Linked DNA regions of Homo sapiens: region 2 is linked to region 1. A link means that fine-mapping ties the variant in region 1 to the expression of a gene that starts in the linked region. Tissue or cell type: monocytes. Region 1 holds a variant in brackets; the other region holds the start of a gene. All regions are shown on one strand. Distances are between the middles of the regions.

Region 1 (10,466 bases):
GAGAGTTTGGAGAATGCAGCAGACATGTGACTACAGCATGTATAGAGGTAGACACTGGATTGGAAATGTCAATCTTTGAAATCTAGTGTAGGGGACAAAGATGGGTTAGAGATCTATAGAAAAGGTATGTGAGTGTTTATGTGTGTGTGTTTGGTGGGAGCTGCAGTCTGAAATAATGGCACATGGATTTGGCTATTCAGGACAGTTGGGAATGTGGAAGGTGTGGGGGTTTTGTAGTTCATTCCTTTGCACTGTCTGCATCCTGGAGGACAGGTCACTTCCTCCTGCTCATTGAGTTGTAGTTGGTTGTTTGCTACACATTGTCATTTCACTTCTTCGGGGTTTATTTCATTGCTTGGTATCTATGTTTGTACTAATTGAAGTATCTGGCCATTAATTAAAAACAAGCAAACAAACAAACATGTAATGCCATAGATTCATATGGGAAAACTGAGGCTGACCAAAATTTGATGGAGCCAGTAGATGGTAGAACTCAGACTAAAACTAGTGGCTCCTGACTTCATGTTTTGTGACCTTTTCTGTGTTCAAGGGTATATCTGCTCACCAGCATCTAAATGTAAACCAAACACAACTGTCTATTATTATAACTTCCCCCTCTAGTCTTCAAGTTATATTGAACCAGTTTTTCTGTAAGACAGACATAAAGCTGCAGACACAGCCACTTTCCCTGAAATTAAAAGAATTAGTTGCTGTGAAATGCAAACAAAATTCAGAGCTGGTTGGACCAACCATGGACACTTGCCAAGCTTCTACTATACGTAAGGTACTCTAATATGGTTCCAAATTTTCTGGGACAATTCTTCGAGTTATATAATTCTTCCACATTTTTACTCCTCTGGTATCTATTGAGCTGACTTTTTCCCATATGCTTATTGCTCTTTTATATTTATTTGTTTGTGAATTTGTATATCATTGCTTTTACTTTTCCTATTGCATGAGGTCTGAGTTACCGTTCGCTGAATAGTTGTTAATGCTTAGAAAAATTAAAGACTTTGCTTGTGCTACTAAGGGGCTGAGCTGGCACCTGGCCTTGATTCTCTTTGATTTCAAAGCCACTATGTTCACATCCATATTTTCAGGACGTTCCTAAAAAAAGGGACATTCACCCAAAAGGTTAAAAATTAAATGAATGCAGCATGTGCTTCTCTAATACACATTACTTCATCACTGCATCTTAGAAACGATAATATCTACCCTAACAGGCCCTTGGATGTTGCTAAGGTTTTTTATTTTCAAAATTTCTTAATTTCATATATTTCTTTGAATGCAAAATTATTAGCTTTTGAAGGTGTTCTGTAACCAATAAGGGTTTCCCACCAAAATGTGTTATTCTTGTGTTTACCTAAATTCCTTTGAGAGAATACTTGATCCTAAAGAGGGATATGGGGAGAAAATATAACCTTCTGAAAAAAGAGATTTTAGTTAAGCTATAGCCTTGGTCATGGTGGCAGAGATCTGAAATGATAGTTGATTAAACAAGATAGAGATTTCTTTCTCTTTCATGTCATAGTTGGTATATTAGTTTGTTCTCACATTGCTATAAACAACTACCTGAAACTGGGTAATTTATAAAGAAAAGAGGTTTAATCAGCTTACAGTTCCACAGGCTGTACAGGAAGCATGGTTGGGAGGCCTCAGGAAACTTACAATCATGGCAGAAGGCAAAGAGGGAGGAGGCACGTTTTACATGGCTAGAGCAGGAGAAACAGAGAGAGGAGGAGAGGTGTTACATACTTTTAAACAACCACATCTCATGAGAACTCATTCACCATCATGAGAACAGCAAGGGGAATGTCTGCCCCCATGATCCAATAACCTTCCACCAGACCCCTACCCCAACATTGGGGATTACAGTTCAACATGAGATTTGGTCAGGGACACAAATTGAAACCATATTAATTGGTGTGTAAGCAGCCCAGGATTTGTAGGATGGCTTCATGGCATTGGTAATGAGGACCCAAATTTAAACCATATAATTCCACCCCAACCCCTCCCAAATATCATGTCCTTCTCACACTACAAAATACAATAATCTCTTCTCAACAGTCCCCTAAATTTTAACTCATTTCAGTGTTAACTCAAAAGTCCACAGTCCAAAGTCTCATCTGAGACAAGGCAAGTCCCTTCTGCCCATGAGTCTATAAAATAAAAAAACAAGTTAGTTACTTCCAAGATACAATAGGGGCACAGGCATTGGCTAAACACTCCCATTCCAAAAGAGAGAAATCAGGCAAAACAAAGAGGCTACAGGCCACGTGCAAGTTCAAAACCCAGCAGGGCAGCCATTGAATCTTAAAGCTCCAAAATAATCTCTTTTGACTCCATGTCTCACGTCCAGGCTACACTGATGCAAGGGCTGGGCTCTCAAGGCCTTGGGAAGCTCCACCCTTGTGGTTCTGCGGGATACAGTCCCCTCGACTGCTTTCACCGGCTGGCTGGCATTGAGTGCCGGTGGCTTTTCCAGAAGCACAGTGCAAGCTGTCAGTGGATCTACAATTCTGGGGTCCGGAAGACAGTGACCCTCTTCTCACAGCTCCACTAGGCGGTGCCCCAGTGGGGATTCTGTGTGGGGGACTCCAAGCCTGCATTTCCCCTCCACTTTGCCCTAGTAGAGTTTCTCCATGAGGACTCTTTCATGCGTGTCCGTGTGAAGAGACCACCAAACAGGCTTTGTGTGAGCAACATGGCTGTTTATTTCACCTGGGTGCAGGCGGGCTGAGTCCGAAAAGAGAGTCAGCGAAGGGAGATAAGGGTGGGGCCGTTTTATAGGATTTGGGTAGGTAAAGGAAAATTACAGTCAAAGGGGGTTTGTTCTCTGGCGGGCAGGAGTGGGGGTCGCAAGGTGTTCAGTGGGGGTGCTTTCTGAGCCAGGATGAGCCAGGAAAAGGACTTTCACAAGGTAATGTCATCAGTTAAGGCAAGGACCGGCCATTTACACTTCTTTTGTGGTGGAATGTCATCAGTTAAGGTGGGGCAAGGCATATTCACTTCTTTTGTGATTCTTCAGTTACTTCAGGCCATCTGGGCATATACGTGCAAATCACAGGGGATGCGATGGCTTGGCTTGGGCTCAGAGGCCTGACATTCCTGCCTTCTTATATTAATAAGAAAAATAAAACAAAATAGTGTTGAAGTGTTGGGGCGGTGAAAATTTTTTGGGGGGTGGTATGGAGAGAGAATGGGCGATGTTTCTCAGGGCTGCTTCGAGCGGGATTAGGGGCGGCGTGGGAACCTAGAGTGGGAGAGATTAAGCTGAAGGGAGGTCTTGTGGTAAGGCGTGATATTGTGGGGATGTTAGAAGAAACATTTGTCATATAGAATGATTGGTGATGGCCTGGATACGGTTTTGTATGAATTGAAAAACTAAATGAAATAACAGAAGGAGAAAAACAGGTATAAAAGGCCTAAGAATTGGGACAACTCAGGATGTCTGATTAGAGAGTGCCTAAGGAGATTCAGCATAGTCCTGCCAGCAAAGATTATTTATGTACTTCAAGAGTTAAGAGTGGCAGTTTGGGGATAGCACCAGGAGATATCAGCTGTGATGGCTTGGAAAAACAGTGTAAACTGGCAGTGTAAACAAGAGCAGGGCATGTATGAGTAGTTGAGAACGGTGAATAGCAGTATGACTAGACAGAAAATAGTAGGGATGACAAGTTTTTTTTTTTGGGATTTTTTTTTTTTGAGGCACAGTCTAAGTTGGTCTGGTGTCTGGAATGAGACTGGGGCCTAATAAAAAGGAGCATCTATACAGGACCTTAAATGGGCTGTACCCTGTAGCATTCTGAGGACAGGCCTGAATTCTGAGAAGGGAAAGTGGTAAAAGTATTGTCCAGTCCTTTTTAAGTTGGTGGCTGAGCTTGGTGAGGTGTGTTTTCTTGAAGATGGAGGACTATAAGGGATATAAAGGTTTCACTGAATACTAAGAGCCTGAAAAACTGCTTGGCTGATTTGACTAATAAAGGCTCGTCTGTTATCAGACTGTATTGAGGTGGGAAGGCTAGACTGAGGAATTATGTCTGACAGAAGGGAAGAAATGACTGCGGTGGCCTTCTCAGACCCTGTATGAAAGGCCTCTACTTATTTTGAGGGCCTCTATAAGTATTAAAGCAGCGGCAGCCGCTGCACGCAGACATGAGGGCTAGGCTAAAACAGTAAGGTCAAGTTGTTTGGACAGAAAGGCTACAGGGTGTGGTCCTGGCTCTTGTGTAAGAATTCTGACCGCGCTAACCACGCCTAGGAAGGAAAGGAGTTGTTGTTTT[A/G]TAGAAGGTGCTTGGGTTTGAGAGATCAGTCGGACGCGATTGGCAGGGAGAGCACGTGTGTTTTTATGAGAATTATGCCGAGATAGGTAACAGATGAGGAAGAAATTTGGGCTTGATTGAAGTAATGGGGGCTGTCTGAGAAGCTTTGCGGCAGTACAGCCTAGGTAATTTGCTGAGCTTGATGGGTGTCAGGGTCAGTCCAAGTGAAAGCAAAGAGAGGCTGGGATTAAGGGTGCAAAGGAATAGTAAAGAAAGCATGTTTGAGATCTAGAACAGAATAATGGGTTGTAGAGGCAGGTATTGAGGACAGGAGAGTATACGGGTTTGGCACCACGGGGTGGATAGGCAAAACAATTTGGTTGATAAGGTGCAGATCCTGAACTAACTTGTAAGGCTTGTCTGGTTTTAGGACAGGTAAAATGGGGGAATTGTAAGGAGAGTTTATAGGCTTTAAAAGGCCATGCTGTAGCAGGCGAGTGATAACAGGCTTTAATCTTTTTAAAGCGTGCTGCGGGATGGGATATTGGCGTTGAGTGGGGTAAGGGTGATTAGGTTTTAATGAGATGGTAAGGGGTGCATGATCGGTCGCCAAGGAGGGAGTAGAGGTATCTTATACTTGTGGGTTAAGGTGGGGGGATAGAAGAGGAGGACGCAAAGGAGGCTTTGAATTGGGAAGAAGGGCGGCAATGAGATATAGCTGTAGTCCAGGAATAGTCAGGGAAGCAGATAATTTAGTTAAAGTGTCTCGGCCTAATAAGGGAACTGGGCAGGTGGGGATGACTAAAAAGGAGTGCTTAAAAGAGTATTGTCTAAGTTGGCACCAGAGTTGGGGAGTTTTAAGAGGTTTGCCTGGCCGTCAATACCCACAACAGTTATGGAGGCAAGGGAAACAGGCCCTTGAAAAGAGGGTAATGTGGAGTGAGTAGCCTCCGTATTGATTAAGAAGGGGACGGGCTTACCTTCCACTGTGAGAGTTACCTGAAGCTCGGCGTCAGTGACTGTCTAGGGGGCTTCCGAGGTGATCCGGCAGTGTCAGTCTTCAGCCGCTAAGCCGAGAAGATCTGGGAAGGAGTCAGTCAGAGAGGCTTGGGCCAGAGTTCCAGGGGCTCTGGGAGTGGCTGCCAGGTGAGTTGAACAGTCCGATTTTCAGTGGGGTCCCACACAGATGGGACGCGGCTTAGGAGGAATCCCAGGCTGCGGGCATTCCTTGGCCCAGTGGCCAGATTTCTGGCACGTGTAGCAAGCTCCTGTGGGAGGAGGTTCTGGAGGAACGCCTGGCCGCTGCGGTTCAGGCGTTTGGAAGTTCTTGTGTGCTGGAGACGTGGCTGGGGTTTGTCTCACAGTGGAGGCAAGGAATTGCAACTTTTTTCTATTATGGTACACCTTGAAGGTGAGGTTAATTAAATCCTGTTGTGGGGTTTGAGGGCCAGAATTTAATTTTTGGAGTTTTATTTAATATCGGGAGCAGATTGGGTAATAAAATGTATATTGAGCATAAGACGGCCTTTTGACCTTTTAGGGTCTAGGGCTGTAAAGCGTCTCAGGGTTGCTGCCAAACAAGCCATGAACTGGGCTGGATTTTTATATTTGATGAAAAAGAGCCTAAACGCTATCTGATTTGGGGTAAAGAAAAAGGAGCATTAACCTTGACTATGCCTTTAGCTCCAGCCACCTTTTTAAGAGTAAATTGCTGGGCAGGTGGGGGAGGGCTAGTCACCGAACGAAACTGTAAGCCCGACCAGGTGTGAGGAGGGGAGGTGATAAAAAGATTATAGGGTGGAGGAGCAGAGGCTGAGGAAGAATTGGGACCTAGCTCGGCCTGGCCAGGAGCAGCCTGGGGAGGAAGGGAGAGGTCAGATGGGTCTGTAGAAAAGGAAGATTAGAAAGACTCAGCGACGCTTGGGGTTGGTACTGAGGGGACAGGCGGGAGGGAAAGAAGGAAGATTTGGGACGAGTTGCACTGGTCACAGAGACTAGGAAGGGACTGATGTGTAAAAGAATGCCTGGACGTCAGGCACCTCAGACCGTTTGCCTATTTTACGACAAGAATTATTTAGATTTTGCAGGATGGAAAAATTCAAAGTGCCATTTTCTGGCTATTTGGAACTACTGTCGAGTTTGTATTGGGGTCAAACGGCATTGCAGAAGAAAATAAGTCATTTAGGTTTTAGGTCAGGTGTGAGTTGAAGAGGTTTTAAGTTTTTGAGAACACAGGCTAAGGGAGGAGAAGGAGGAATGGAGGGTGGAAGCTTACCCATAGTGAAGGAGGCAAGCCCAGAGAAAAGAGACACGGAGAAGGGTTGGGGGGTTCTTGCCCTCCAGAAAAGCAGAGAAGGGGTTGGGGCACGGAAATAAGGGATGGGGGCACAGAGATAAGAGGTCAGGGTGCGGAAATAAGGGATTGGGGCACAGAGATAAGAGGTTGGGGTGTGGAAATAAGCAACTGGGGGCTTCTTGCCCCCTAGGAAAGCGGGACTTGCCACTAAGGGTGAAGGAGAAGGGATTGAGGGGTACTTGCCCCTGCTCCAGGAAAGCGGGACTTGCCACTAAGGGTGAAGGAGAAGGGGTTGAGGGATACTTGCCCCTGCCCCAGGAAAGCGGGACTTGCCGCTAAGGGTGAAGGACCAAGGCAGGCGTCCCTGCGTGGTCTGACACCCTTGAAACGTGAGTGTATAATCAGAGAGGTGTCCCTGCAATGATTAAACACCAAGGGGAAGGCTGCCTTCCCAGCCCGTGACCGGCGCTGGAGTTTTGGGTTCATGGATAAAACATGTCTCTTTTGTCTCTACCAGAAAATGAAAGGAATTGAAATTAAGAGAAGGGAGAGATTGAAGTGTGGCGCCAAGATTGAAAGGAGAAAGAGGTTGAGGGATAGTGAGGGAGATTGGAGAAGAGAGTAAAAAGAGGCCACTTACCGGATTCGAAATTGGTGAGATGTTTCTTGGGCCGGTCGGTCTGAGGACCTGAGGTCGTAGGTGGATGTTTCTCACGGAGCAAAGAGCAGGAGGACAGGGGATTGATCTCCCAAGGGAGGTCCCCCGATCCGAGTCATGGCACCAAACTTCATGCGCGTCCGTGTGAAGAGACCACCAAACAGGCTTTGTGTGAGCAACATGGCTGTTTATTTCACCTGGGTGCAGGCAGGCTGAGTCCGAAAAGAGTCAGCAAACGGAGATAAGGGTGGGGCCGTTTTATAGGATTTGGGTAGGTAAAGGAAAATTACAGTCAAAGGGGGTTTGTTCTCTGGCGGGTAGGAGTGGGGATCGCAAGGTGCTCAGTGGGGGTGCTTTTTGAGCCAGGATGAGCCAGGAAAAGGACTTTCACAAGGTAGTGTCATCAGTTAAGGCAAGGACCGGCCATTTACACTTCTTTTGTGGTGGAATGTCATCAGTTAAGGTGGGGCAAGGCATATTCACTTCTTTTGTGATTCTTCAGTTACTTCAGGCCATCTGGGCGTATACATGCAAGTCACAGGGGATGCGATGGCTTGGCTTGGGCTCAGAGGCCTGACAGACTCCACCCCTGCAGCAATCTTCCTGGACATTCAAGGATTTCCACACATCCTCTGAAATCTAGGCAGAGGCTTCCAAGCTTCAACTCTCACACTCTGTGTACTTGCAGGCTTAACACCACATGGAAGCTGCCAAGGCTTATGGCTGGCACCCTCTGCCTGAGCTATACCTTGGCCCCTTTTAGCCATGGCTGGAGCTGGGGCAGCCAGGATTCAGGGCACCATGTCCCCAGGCTGCACAGAGTGGCCGGACCTTGGTCCTGGCCCACAAAACTATTCTTTCCTTGTGGGCCTCCAGGCCTGGGATGGGAGGGGCTGCTGCAAAGACCTCTGAAATGCCTTTGAGGCATTTTCCCTATTATGTTGGCTATCAACATTTGGCTCCTCTTTACATATGCAAATTTCTGCAGCTGGCTTGAATTCCTCCACAGAAAATGGGTTTTTCTTTTCTACCACATAGCTGGGCTACAAATTTTCCAAACTTTTACACTCTGCTTCCAGTTTCAGATCATCTGTTTGCTCCTGCATAACAAAAGTGACTTTGGCTCTGGTTCTCAATAAATTCCTCATCTCCATCTGAGACCTCTTCAGCCTGGATTTCGTTGTCCATAGCACTGTCAGTATTTTGGGCACAACAATTTAACAAGTCTCTAGGAAGTTCCAAACTTTCCCTCATCTTCCTGTCTTCTTCTGAGCCCTCTAAACTGTTCTAATCTCTGCTTGTTAAACCAAGTTCCAATGTTGTTTCCACATTTGCAGATATCTCATAGCAATGCCCCACTCCTAAGTACCAATTTTCTATATTAGTCTGTTCTCGCTTTGCTACAAAGAACCACCCGAAACTGGGTTATTTATAAAGCAAAGAGGTTTAATTGGCTCACAGTTCCACAGGCTGTACAGGAAACATGGCTGGTGAGGCCTCAGGAAACTTACAATTATGGCGGAAGGCAAAGAGGAAAGAGGCTTATCTTAGATGGCGAGAGAAGGAGGAAGAGAGAGAGAGCAGGGAGGTGCCACACACTTTTCAACAACTAGATCTCATGAGAACTCACTCACTAATATGAGAACAGCAAGGGGAAAGTCTGCCCCCATGATCCAATCACCTCCCACCTGACCCCTCCTCCAACATTGGGGATTACCATTTGATGTGGGATTTGGGTGGGGACAGACATTCAAACCATATTAGTTGGTATGTAAGCAGCCCAGGATTGGTAGGATGGCTTCATGTCATTGGTGATGGGGACCCATTCTGCATTATTGCTTCCTCTCTGTAGGGAGTTGCCTTTATCTACATAGTCCGAAATAACTCATCATTTTTGCCTAAGATGCCAGTGGGCAGGGGAAGAAAGCCCTTTCCTTTTAATGGGGCAACTTAGAAGAAGCTCACCACTTCCAACTACTTCCCACTTGTCAGAACTTTGCTGCATGACAACGCCATGTTGCAAAGGAGGCTGGGAAATATAGCCTTTATTTGGAGAAACTATTTGTTCAGCTGAAATTGAGAGAGAAGGGACAACAGTTACTAGGAGATAGCTAGCAATCTCTGGCACATAAGACTTTACCAGACAGTGAGAAACTGCACCTCCGATTTATGCAACTGACAGTCTAAACTAGGTTTAAATCTTGGCTTTGCTTCTTGCAAACTGGGCTTTCCTTTGGCACATTTTCTTGTCTGTGAAAAAGAGACCATAAATGGGGAGTAATGCTTATAAGGTGTCTGTTGGAGCATCTGGTACATAGTAGGTGGTCAACAATGAAGTGTCCCTTTTTTCTTCTCCTTTCTAGAAAATATGAAACTCTGGAGAGTCTATCAGGAAGGCTGTGTTGTATAGCCACTGAGGGCTTAGAGCCCACATTTGCTCATGGGAATTTCATCTTCTGGCCGGACATACACACTGAGAGGCAGCAGCTGGATAGCTTAAGATAAATGATTTTGAAAGATTCTCTGAGCATACAGAGCTCACAGAGATTAAAGGTAAAAGCCACAAGGCAGCAGGATGTACAATACAACCAAAGCCTGGCAATCAAGTTAGACACATATGTTATCTTCCATCATACCTGGGTAGAATCAGAAACCGCTAGAGTTGATTAGCCGAGGCCCAATCAGGCATTTATCCTGATAGAAAAGACACACCCACCCAGAAGATTAAAAATAAATAAATGGAGCCCTGAGACTTTTTAAATCATGAAAATGGAATTAAAGGCTATTTGTCACTTTCCTGTCATTTTGTATCACAAAGAGACTTGCAGTCTCTGTGAGCAAGGGTATTTCTCCCTCCCATGCACCCAGCACTCCCCGCACCACCATCAGGGACCCTGTGCCATTGCTGGAAGGTAAGGTCCAGGTTTTCAATGGCTGACTCCTTAGGCTCTGTTTTTGGGAGGGATCTGGGGAATCCTTGAGTCATGGGCTTTGTACCTATTGTTGTTAGACAAATATCTAAACAGGGCTTTTCAGCTTTAGAAGGTGCTTGTGTGTGCTTTCTTCTAGAAATCCCCCCTTCTTCTGACTTGTCCAAGACATACAATGCCAGGGTCACTCTCCCTTCCTCTTCCCCTCCCAGATAGGTTTATATAAAAGCATGTGTATGTGTAAGAGAGAGAGTGTTTGAGTGTGTGTGTGTGTTGTATGTGTTTGTGCTTCCTTTGGAGTTCAAATGCAGCAAACTACT
Region 2 (10,466 bases), 50 kb before region 1:
GCAACTTCACTAGGTGGGAAGCATACTGGAGATCCAGGCTTCAATTCATGCCTCTAACGAGCCATGTGCCCTCTGAGTCTCCATTTCCTCATCTGTAAAATATAATTATTAGAATAGTGAGGCATGCCCTGTAGTCTCTCAGATGCTCTGAATGATCAAATTACTTAAGGTATTTAAAAGCAACAGAGGATCTATTGTGATGAGTTTGAAAAACATATGGTCTTGAGTTCACCATTTTTATTAAATAAAACTCTAAGTTTATAATTTGGAGTGTTCCTCATAACAATAATAATATAGTATGGTGAGAAATAATCATGTACTAAGGGTTCTAGACACTGAACAGCCACTGTTCTAGGGGCTTTAAATATATATGCTCATTTAATCCTCACACCAACCCTAGAAGGTAGGTACTACTATCGTCATCCCTCTTGTACAGAGGAGGAAACTGAGAGCAGAGAGAGGTTAAGTCACTGGATCAAGGTTTCACAGTCCCTAAGTGGAGGAGCCAGAATATGAATGCAAGCAGGCTGGCTCTTGTGACTGTAACTTTCAAAGTGGCCAACATGGCCACTGGCAGTGGGACCCACAAAGTTTCTCGGAACTGTTTCTTCCATCATGCCACTGAAAGGATAATCAGCTTAAGCAATACCCTGACAGCCCTTGTTTCTGTGTTTTGTTCACACCCCCTTACCCCAAATTCTGATGATCCTAACTACCCACTCTCTCTCTCTGCCTGACCCTAGGTAGTTGAGCATTGCTGCGAGAAAATAAATAACAACGGGAACTCGTACCCCTTGTTATTTATTTAAATACGTAATTGCAAATTTCAACTGGGCACCCACTCAACATTGCCCCAAACAACTATTCAAATCTCCATTCTCCTCAGATGATGGAGGGCTGTATTTACACCAAAGAGAAACCCCATCTTGCCTGCCCTTCTAATTGCAGGAGGGGATGTCCTGCCTCCTACCTAAAGCCATCCATCCCCCTGTGGTATGAAGTCCATCTGCCTCCACTTTTTCAGAATGCTGACACTATAGGGCCAGAAGCAGTGGCTCACAACTATAATCCTAGTGCTTTGGGAGGCCAAGGTGGAAGGACTGCTTGAGGCCAGGAGTTTAAGACAGTTTCTGAGCAACATAGCAGGACCTTGTGTTTATAAAAATAAAAAAATTAGCTGGGCATGGTGTCGGTGGTGCGGGCCTGTAATCCCAGCTACTTAGGAGGCTGAGGTGGGAGGATTACTTGAGCCTTGGAATTTGAGGTTGCAGTGAGCCATGATTCCACCAATGCACTCCAGCCTGGGTGACAGAGAGACCTGTCTGTTAAAAAAAAAAAAAAAAAAAAAAAAAAAAAAAAAAAGAAAGCAAGCAAGCAACATTACAGATTATCATCTTTTCTCCTCCTTCTCCTTCCCCCTTCTATAGAATCCTTTCTATCACACTGATTGCTCAATTAGCACCTATATTTAAGAAATCTTTCTTCACTCCACTCTCCCCTTTAGCTACTGCCTCTTTTTGCCTCTCCTTTTTCCAGACAAAGGAATCCACCTGTCTCCTTTTCTTCACCTTCTACTGCCTTCTAGAGCCACTCTAATCTGGCTCCTGCCTCCACCACCCCGCTGTGAAATACCACTCTTCCTTCACTTCATCATCTCCATTTAAAAAAGACATTTAGCGTTCCTCATCTTCATTAGTTTCTCAGTAGCATAGTTGATCTCTCCTTCCTTTCTCAAAAACTCAAACCTCCCTTGGCTTCAATGATTCATATTCTTCTTTCTTTGACTCCAAGTCTACTCTTTCTCAGGCTCCTTTATCAGCTCATTCTCATTGACTGGGCGTTTAAATATAGTTTCTCAAGGCTGGTCTTAAAAAGCACCTGCTGCACAGAGTTGTTGAAGGATTCGAGGAGTCCATGAAATACATAAAGGCTTAGAACAGTAGGTGGCACATACTAAATGCTAAGAAAGTGCTTGCTATTACCTTCAGTTGATTTAGTCTCTCCCAGAGCTTCCATTGCCATTTTTAGGTAAATAGTACCCAAATGCAATGTCATCATGAAGACCTCCCTTCTGAGTTCCAGACAGATATACCCAACTGCTGATTCATCATCTTTACTTGGATGTCTTGCAACACCTCAGACACAGTGTGTTGAAAATGAAATGTCTCATATCTTGCCCAAACTTGGTTTGGAATAGATCACCAGCTACTTTGAGAATCTGATAAAAAAAAAAAGTTCTCTTCTCATACAAATTCACAAAGCACATCATTTTGCATACAACTTGAAGGAATTCATGGACCCCAAATTAAGGATCACTGCCTTAGCAGATGTGTCACTTGAGCTGAGTCCTGAAAGAAGAGTAGAGTTTCACCTGGCAGACAGGCAAGTCAGGTGGGAAGGGCAGAGCTGGCAAAGAGGGCAGCTTGACAAAGGCGAGGAAACAGAAAAATACAAGGCGCAAAGAAGGACCTGCTGAGAAACAAGGCCAGGGAGGGAAGAAGGGACTCCATAACAGGAGTCAGGGCATATAGGCCACGTTAAATTCCTTGCATTTGTAGATAACAGAGCCATAAAAGTTTGAAAGGGAGAGACATGATCAGATTTGCATTTTAAAAATACTAACGATAGCAAACACTTGTTGTCTTCTATGTGCTTTCTACATAATCTCTGTGAAAGCTGGATAGGGTAAGGGGTGGGGGCAAGCTCTGGAAAAGCAGGGAAACGATGAACAGCTTTTTGATAACTGAAATTCAAGGGCTCTGTGAATATATGGCAAACACAAAACTAATTAGCATACATTGAAATGCATGCTATTTTACCTTTAGCTTAAGGATACTAGTGATACAGTAAGAATTCCTTTTTTTTTGGAGATGGAGTTTTGCTCTTGTTGCCCATGCTGGAGTGCAATGGCGTGATCTCAGCTCATGGCAACCTCCGCCTCCCGGGTTCAAGCGATTCTCCTGCCTCAGCCTCCCGAGTAGCTGGGATTACAGGCATGCGCCACCACACCTGGCTAATTCTGTATATTTTTTAGTAGGGATGAGGTTTCTCCATGTTGGCCAGGCTGGTCTCAAACTCCCGACCTCAGGTGATCCGCCCACCTCGGCCACCCAAAGTGCTGGGATTATAGGCGCGAGCTACCGCACCTGGCCAAGAATTCTTTAAACAATTCTGTCCTGTTACAACTACACATTTTAGTGACAGAGGCTGAGAACAGAAGCTCTGGTGTCAGCAGGAGTGGGGAGCCCCTCCCAGGAGGCCTGGCCGCTGTCATGCTGATGTCCAGATCCTGGGGCGATGTCACCCCCTGGGTCCAGGACTTCCTCTCCCTTCTCTAAGACAGAGCCCTTGAAAAAAATATCAGTTTTAGGTGAGTTCTGCAAATTGAAAATGAATAGACTAGTGAATGCTTTATTTAACGCAGTTACAAATAAGCTGGTTAATTTTGCTTTGTTTCTTCTATTCATGGTCCAGCTAACTAATGGCAGAAAAAAAAAGCCAATAATCTTGTTAAAGTTGATAAATGCCACTTACACAAAGAGTGGGAAGAAGAAAGGAAGTTTGGCATTTAGCATCAGGTTACTCCACCAGATTATAATTGGGTGCTGTAGAGAGCTATGAATAAGTTTGGATAACAGAGAAAGCCCATTGCTGGGTGAATGCCCTAGGGAGTAAAGTCCCGCATTTGGGCTAGGAGTGGTGGGGCAGGAGGGGCCCTGTGGGGAGCTTTGCCGGGGTTGGGTTAGAACTCTGGGTCGATCGTGGGCCTGGATTCTCTACCTGCCCTCACAGGGTTGCCAAATCCTGAGATTAGTCTAAAACCTCTCCGACCTTCCAGGAATGAGGCTTTCTGTAGTCTAGGCAGCTCCCGCCCTCCCCCAGGATTACTCCAGATAGGAAAAAACACCCTTTCCTCCTGGGTCAGTACCCGCGGCCTGGATGTGGTGCTGACTCTGCACAGGAAAGTCCTTTAGAGACAGAGGCTGCCTGGAAGCCTTTATAACGACATTCATCTCCTAAAAGGCATTTTGTCTTTTCTTCCGCTCAGGAAAACAGTGTTTGGAGACTAACTAATTAGTCTCCAAAGGTTTGAGCCCATTGTTTGAGTCCGCTGAAGCGAAGAGAATATTAAAAAAAAAAAAAGGCAGGGCTAGATCCTAATCCCAACACCATCTCCATCCCGCCGGTACAACAGGCCAAAGGGTCCAGCTGGGACAGGTGCACTTAGAGGTGAGGAAGTTCGGCGGGACTGGAGGAGTCGGGGAGGGGGACTCGGCAGCACAGATTAAAGTCCCACGATGAAGCCATATAACGAGAAATGCCATCCTCCTAGCCGACTTCGGAAAGACTTTTAGGTGCGGGTGTCCCACCCTGCTTTTCTTCCTCTCCCGATCTCCAGGGCCGGACTCCAGGGGGCTCCGGAGCTACAGGAGGAAAGTCCCCGAGGAAGGAGGAAACAAGTGCAAGAGCATCTCCTGTCTCTAGCGATGCAGACAAGGGGTCTTTGCATCCGCCTGGCGCTCTGCATCGCCTCACAGGATGGGTGGGCTTGCACTGAACCTTGAGTCCTTCCACTTTCCTCCCCCCGGGTGGTGCCCGCCCTGCCCAGGGCAGCGCGGCCCGCCCAGGAGAGAGCGGGGGATCCGGCAGGAGGAGAAGCCCCGCGCCCCGGTCCCGTCGCACGGATCAGGAGGGTCCCCGTCCGGGGAGGAGCCGCCGCGCAACTCGGAGAGCGCCCCCCGCCCGCGGCCCGGCCCGGCGCGGCTCACCCTCCGGTCTCGGCGCCCGAGTCCACGCAGTCGTCCTCCTCGCCGCCGCCGCCCGCCTTTGGGTCCATGGTGCACGTCCCGGCCGCGCTCGGCTTGCGGGCGCCGTCGTGACCCGGGGCGCCCTCCCTCCCGGCCGCCCAGTCCGAGCCGGCCGGGCTCCCTCCGAGCGTCTGGCGGCCCGGGAGCCGGCAAACAACTCAAGCGCCAGCCGCGAACCCCGCGCCGCGCCCTCTCCCGACCGCGCCCGGCTGGGCACCCGCGCCTGCGCCCGCGCCCGCCCCGCCCCTCGCCGTCCGGCGGGACCCGCGTGTGCGCGCGGCGGTGCGCGGGGAGTGCGCGTGCGAGCGCGTGTGCGAGCGCGTGGGGGGCGTGTGAGCGTGAGTGGCCGAGGTGTGTGGTCTCACACCCGTGCGTCTGTGCATGCGGTGTGATGTGGGTGCGGTGTGCACTCCTGGTTGCACGCGACTGTGGCTGTGCTGAGCGCGTGTGCCCGTCTGTGGTGCGTGACCGCGTGTGTGTTGTGGGGGCGGGGTAAGTGTGCACACGAGAGCCGCCTCTCTCCCCCAGGCCCACAGTCCGGGAATCCCGAGCCCCAGGGCTTGCCACGAGGTTCCCCACCTCCTGATCTGGGAGGAGCACTGAGAAAACCAACCTCAGCGCATCGTGAAAGCTGGGAAGGATTTGTTTCCCTTTTGGGACCAATTCGAACACCTGGGTGTTTTCTTATAGTTTCTGAAGAATTGCTGACGCCAAATTCATTATCACCTTTCTCAGTACACGTCTGAGCGGCATCCCACCCCCTCAACTTGCCAGTTTACAATAGGTGTCATGCATTCTTTTGCTACTTAAAAAAAAAAAAGCCTTTAAAAATAATTTAAAGAGCATTGAATGAACCTGCAATTCACGGGTTGTTGCAGCAAGGGGATAACCTTAGGGTGAGTTAATGATCGCTATTGGAGGGGCTCACCTCCTATTAGGAGGGTGAAGAGGGAGGCAAGTTGGCAGGGCGGGCGGAAGGAGACTTCGAACAACTTGAATTTAGTTCTGACAGCCCTATCCAAACCATTGGGAGGAATTGTCCTTACTGAGCCTAAAATTTCTTGCACCCCAAACAGCAATGGACATATTGGTGGGCATTAGCTGAAAGAAAGGAGCGTGCCAGTTCTTCAAGGGAGATTCCCCTGCCCATTTTTTATCTTGCAGCCAGGAGGGAACCTGCCTTTATTTACTCTGTGTGGGAACAATTCAAACTGTGCCTCATTTGATCCTCAGGGAAGTGCTGTGAAACAGGCTTACTTTTCTATTTTACCGTCAAGGAAACTAAACCCTACCGAGTTCGAGTGCCTGGTCCCAGGACACCCTATCAGTGAGCAGGGAAGCCAGGTAGTCCACTTAAGGTAGCTGGAGCCTGTGCCACTTACCTAGAAGGCTGATGAGTGGGCCAGTTGTATCCTCAGGAAGATGGTACTAAGGAAAAGGCCAGGGAAGAAAGGGTGAAATCAGCATGACTTTTAGAAGATGGGCTTTGGAAAATGAGATGCTATTTAAATGATTTCTGCCTTTCTCAAATATCCAGAGAAAGGGCATGCCAGACCAAAACCTCAAGCCACATCTCAAAATGATGCATGGATTCAGGTTCCCCTCGCCCACAGGGGACACAGTGTTATCATTCATCATTGGCATAGCAGTCTAATGGCAACTCAGTGATGCATTTATTATATGGAAGAGAAGCTTGAACGGTATCACTGTATTCTAGTGATGCATGGCTTTCTGCTTCAGTTCCCAGGTTTTAAAAGCCTCACTTCATTTTTTGCTTGTTTGTTTGAGACAGGGTCTTACTCTGTTGCCCAGGCTAGAGTACAGTGGCACAATCACAGCTCACTACAGCCTCCACCTCCCTGATTCAAGTGATCCTCCCAGCCTCCTGAGTAGCTGGGACTACAGGCGTGCCACCATGCCCAGCTGAGTTTTAATTTTTTTGTAGAGAAAAATATGTTGCCTAGGCTGGTCTCGAACTCCTGGCCTCAAGTGATCCTCCTGCCTCGGCCTCTCAAAGTGCTGGGACTATAGGCATGAGGCATTGCACCTGGCCCATTTTTTGGGAGGGCGGGGTATAAGAGTTGCTGGCAGGTAACCAGCACAAGAACCTTCAAGTGATCACTGCAGGGTATCTAGCCCCTAAACTTACATGGTTCCCACACTCCATAGTCCAGCTGTTTAATGTCAGTCTCTTTAATCATGGGGGTACGATGCTCTCCTCCACCCCTTTAAGATGGGGACAGAAAAGTGTCACTGGTCTGCTTAGGGTGTCTTGACTGCTGCCCTAAAGATATTCCTATCAGAGCCTGAGAACAGTGTTGGGGGAATACTGAGGTATGGCAGGAAGTGTAACAGGCTAGGAAACATGAAACCTGACTTCTGGATCGGAATCCATCATGTACTAGTTCTTTAAACTCTCGATAGAGAAAAAGGATAGACCATCAACTGTTTCCAAAGTTCTTACTACATGTCAGTCTTTGTGGTAAGGATTTTACATACATGATTTATTTAAATCTCACAAAATTCTTGTGAGGCTTCCTTTGTCCTTAAAATGGGGTTGTTGATATAAATCTCACAGGAGATTCAAAGCCCCTTAGAAACTACGAAGCATATGAATAAAAGATATTGCTGATTTTTTAATCACTTTTTCTCAGAAAGGTCTGAACATCAATCTTTTGTTGTATTTCACCTATAAAGCATGTTTCAGTCTCTGTTTATATTATTGCATGTGTTGGTGTGTTAGAAAACAAGGCAGTTCATTCATTTATTTATTGAACACTCAGTGTGTACTAGGCAGGGGCTGGTGCTGGGGATATGTTGAGGAATAGGCCAGAGCTATTTTCTGGCCTAATGGAGCTTTTTGGGTCAAGAGAAGGCAAGGCCAATGGGCATGGCTGGCCTTCCCACCAGGCACCTGAGAGGTATGTAGTGCCATCAGCCATTAGAATAGGACTGGAATGCCAAAGCCCTGTCTTGGAGGAAAAAACTTAAGATAATCGGATGGTAAATAGAGTCCATCAACTTTGCTGATGAAAGAGATGGATTAGTAATTAAGAAGGCCAAGAGTAATTGGGAGGGGGCCAAAAAAAGAGGAGCTAAGTAGCTTTAAGATAAGAACTTTACAGCAAGAGACTGAAAACAGATAAAAATAAATATCTCCAGAACATAGAATTTGCCCAGATTTGGATTTCAGTTTAGAGGGAAGCTAGGCCACTTTCATTGCATCTGTACCATTTGCTATTAGGCGAGCTTGATTTAGTCCCTTAAGTAAAATATTTGTTAGGGTTATCCAGTAGCAAATAGAACCAGAAAATATATTGGTCTGGAAACTTTTGCTCATTCATTTTAATTAATTAATTACTTTTTGAAAACACATTTCCCAGAAACAAAAATTACAGGTTAAAGAATGACATTAAAATTAAAAAAAAAGAAATCTCTTTCTTCCAAGACTCCAGAAGAGTCTGTCTAATGTGAAAAATAAATATTATGATCATGAGAAGAAAATTTATAAACTATTGACAAATCTACTTAGACAAAGAAAGCCACTAGCCCTACATGCAAACATAAGGGGACCAGATGGCAAAGGGATAAATGAAATGAAAGATAAACTGTTGTGTTGGGAAATAATCTCATTAAAATATAAATGACTCCACTTTGATAAGGAAGAGCACAGATAGTGGTCCTGCCTTGGAGGCTTCCCAAGAATTCTCAGCCTGCAGTTTATACCCGGACGAGATCTGGAGTCCAAGTCAGACATCAGACCACCCACCCACTGTGACCCCCAACAACTGGTGGGTGGGTGGGCGTAAAATGAGATGGGAATGTGAAAGGCTGGCTTCCGGAAATGTGCTGTGGAAATTTAAGAATCAAAGGGAACCTTAGACTCAGGGCACTGCCCTCCAGTCCCCCGTGAATAGACACGCCTCCTGGGAACTGTGGCTAAGTCACCCATTTATGGTTCTACGAATAACCTAGGCTTGGAAAGCTTTGGCCTTCCGTCCACTTTCATCCTGACACTTTCCTTCAGGCACCTGGTCCTCCCCAGCTCCAACGGCCTGATAGTCAGCTTGGCCTGCCATTACAAAGTACCACAGACAGCATGGCTTCAACAATAGAAGTTGATTTCGTCACAGTTCTGGAGGCTGGAGGTAGAAGATCATGGTGTCAGCAGGATAGGTTTCTTTGGAGGCCTCTCCTTGGCTTGCAGACGGCTGCCTTCTTGCTGTATCTTTCTTCTATCTGTGTGCATCCTTGGGTCTCTTTGTGTGTCCATATTTCCTTTTCTTGTAAATTAAACAGTCAGATTAGATGAAGACCAACTCTAATGGCCTCTTTGTAACTGAATCACTTTCTTTCTTTCTTTCTTTCTTTCTTTCTTTCTTTCTTTCTTTCTTTCTTTCTTTCTTTCTTCTGTCTCTCTCTCTCTCTCTCTTTCTTTCTTTTTTTTTTTGAGATGGAGTCTCGCTCTGTCGCCAGGCTGGAGTGCAGTGGCACAATCTTGGCTCACTGCAACCTCCACCTTCCGGGTTCAAGCGATTCTTCTGCCTCAGGCTCCCGAGTAGCCGGGACTACAGGTGTGCACCACCACACACAGATAATTTTTGTATTTTTAGTAGAGACGGGGTTTCACCATGTTGGCCAGGATGGTCACGATCTCTTGACCTTGTGATCTGCCCACCTTGGTCTCCCAAAGTGCTGGGATTACAGGCATGAGCCACCACGCCCAGCCCTGAATCACTTCTTTAAAGACCCTGTCTCAAAATACAGTCGCATTCTGAGGTACTGGGGATTAGGATATTACCACATTAATTTTGGCGGACACAATTCGACTCATAACACTGCCTTTGAAGCCATATCATGTGGGAGGCAGGATCTTATCATGGGTAAGACTGAGTTTCTCTCCAGCCACAGTGCACAAGCCCAAGTCTTCCCTCTCCCTCTATCACCTGCTAGGCTTGTGAACTGGGGCAAGTTACTTAACCTCTCCGGGACTCAGTTGTTTGCATCGCAGGCATACTGAGGTCTTTATGAGGACTGAGATGTTATCACGCAGAGAGTACTGAGATAGTGCCTGGCACATAGGAAGTATTGGGTATTATCATTTTACTCTGTGGTCAGCTTCCATATCTGAATCTTTCTTCATGACCTCTTTCTGGTTCTGCATCTGACTGTCCCAGTGCTCTTGTCCCTGTCCACAGGAATGTCATGCATTCATGCACTCACTCTTCCAAATTATACTAACCCAACTATCCTGTTGGATCTGGTCCAAATAAGACAGAAATCCTGCCCTTGGACCCTGCCAATCATTAGTGGGAGATCCAAGCAAATAAATCTCAAACCTCAATACAATGTAACTAATGCTATGACAGTGGCATATGCAATTCAGTTCAGAAAGCTGTGCAATGGTGAAATGCCATCTCTACTAAAAATACAAAAATTAGCCGGGTGTGGTGGCAGACACCTGTAATTCCAGCTACTCAGGAGGCTGAGGCAAGGGAATTTTTCGAACCTGGAGGCGGAGGTTGAAGTGAGCTGAGATTACACCACTGCACTCCAGCCTAGGTGACAGAGCAAGACCCTGTCTCAAAAAAAAAAAAAAAAAAAAAGAAGGAAAGCTGTGCAAGATTCTGTTAGAGCCCATGGAATGGAGAAAATGAC

Direction of the effects. Positions count from the first base shown, and alleles are read on the strand shown. Sizes are in standard deviations (SD) of each study's normalised expression.
In carriers of allele A in region 1, the expression in monocytes of the gene that starts at base 4,941 in region 2 tends to be higher than with G alone (large effect, 0.78 SD a copy in Quach 2016).

Evidence for each region. PIP is the estimated chance that this variant, and not a neighbour inherited with it, causes the effect.
Region 2: it holds the start of FAM124A, and the variant in region 1 is fine-mapped to the expression of FAM124A in monocytes (Quach 2016, PIP 0.95).

The regions. Positions count from the first base shown.
Region 1 is chr13:51,167,195-51,177,660 of GRCh38, reverse strand. It overlaps a transcript of C13orf42 not described here. Among named protein-coding and RNA genes, the nearest start is that of FAM124A, 50 kb to the left of the region's middle. RefSeq lists enhancers at 1,998-2,916, 2,917-3,836, 6,597-7,516, 7,517-8,436, 8,437-9,356. The variant A/G (reference allele first, on the strand shown) is at 4,284.
Region 2 is chr13:51,216,873-51,227,338 of GRCh38, reverse strand. FAM124A (family with sequence similarity 124 member A) reads right to left here and starts at 4,941. Exons shown (of 4, transcript NM_001242312.2): 1 at 4,770-4,941. The coding sequence starts at 4,837. RefSeq lists silencers at 4,993-5,052, 5,173-5,222 and an enhancer at 5,003-5,793.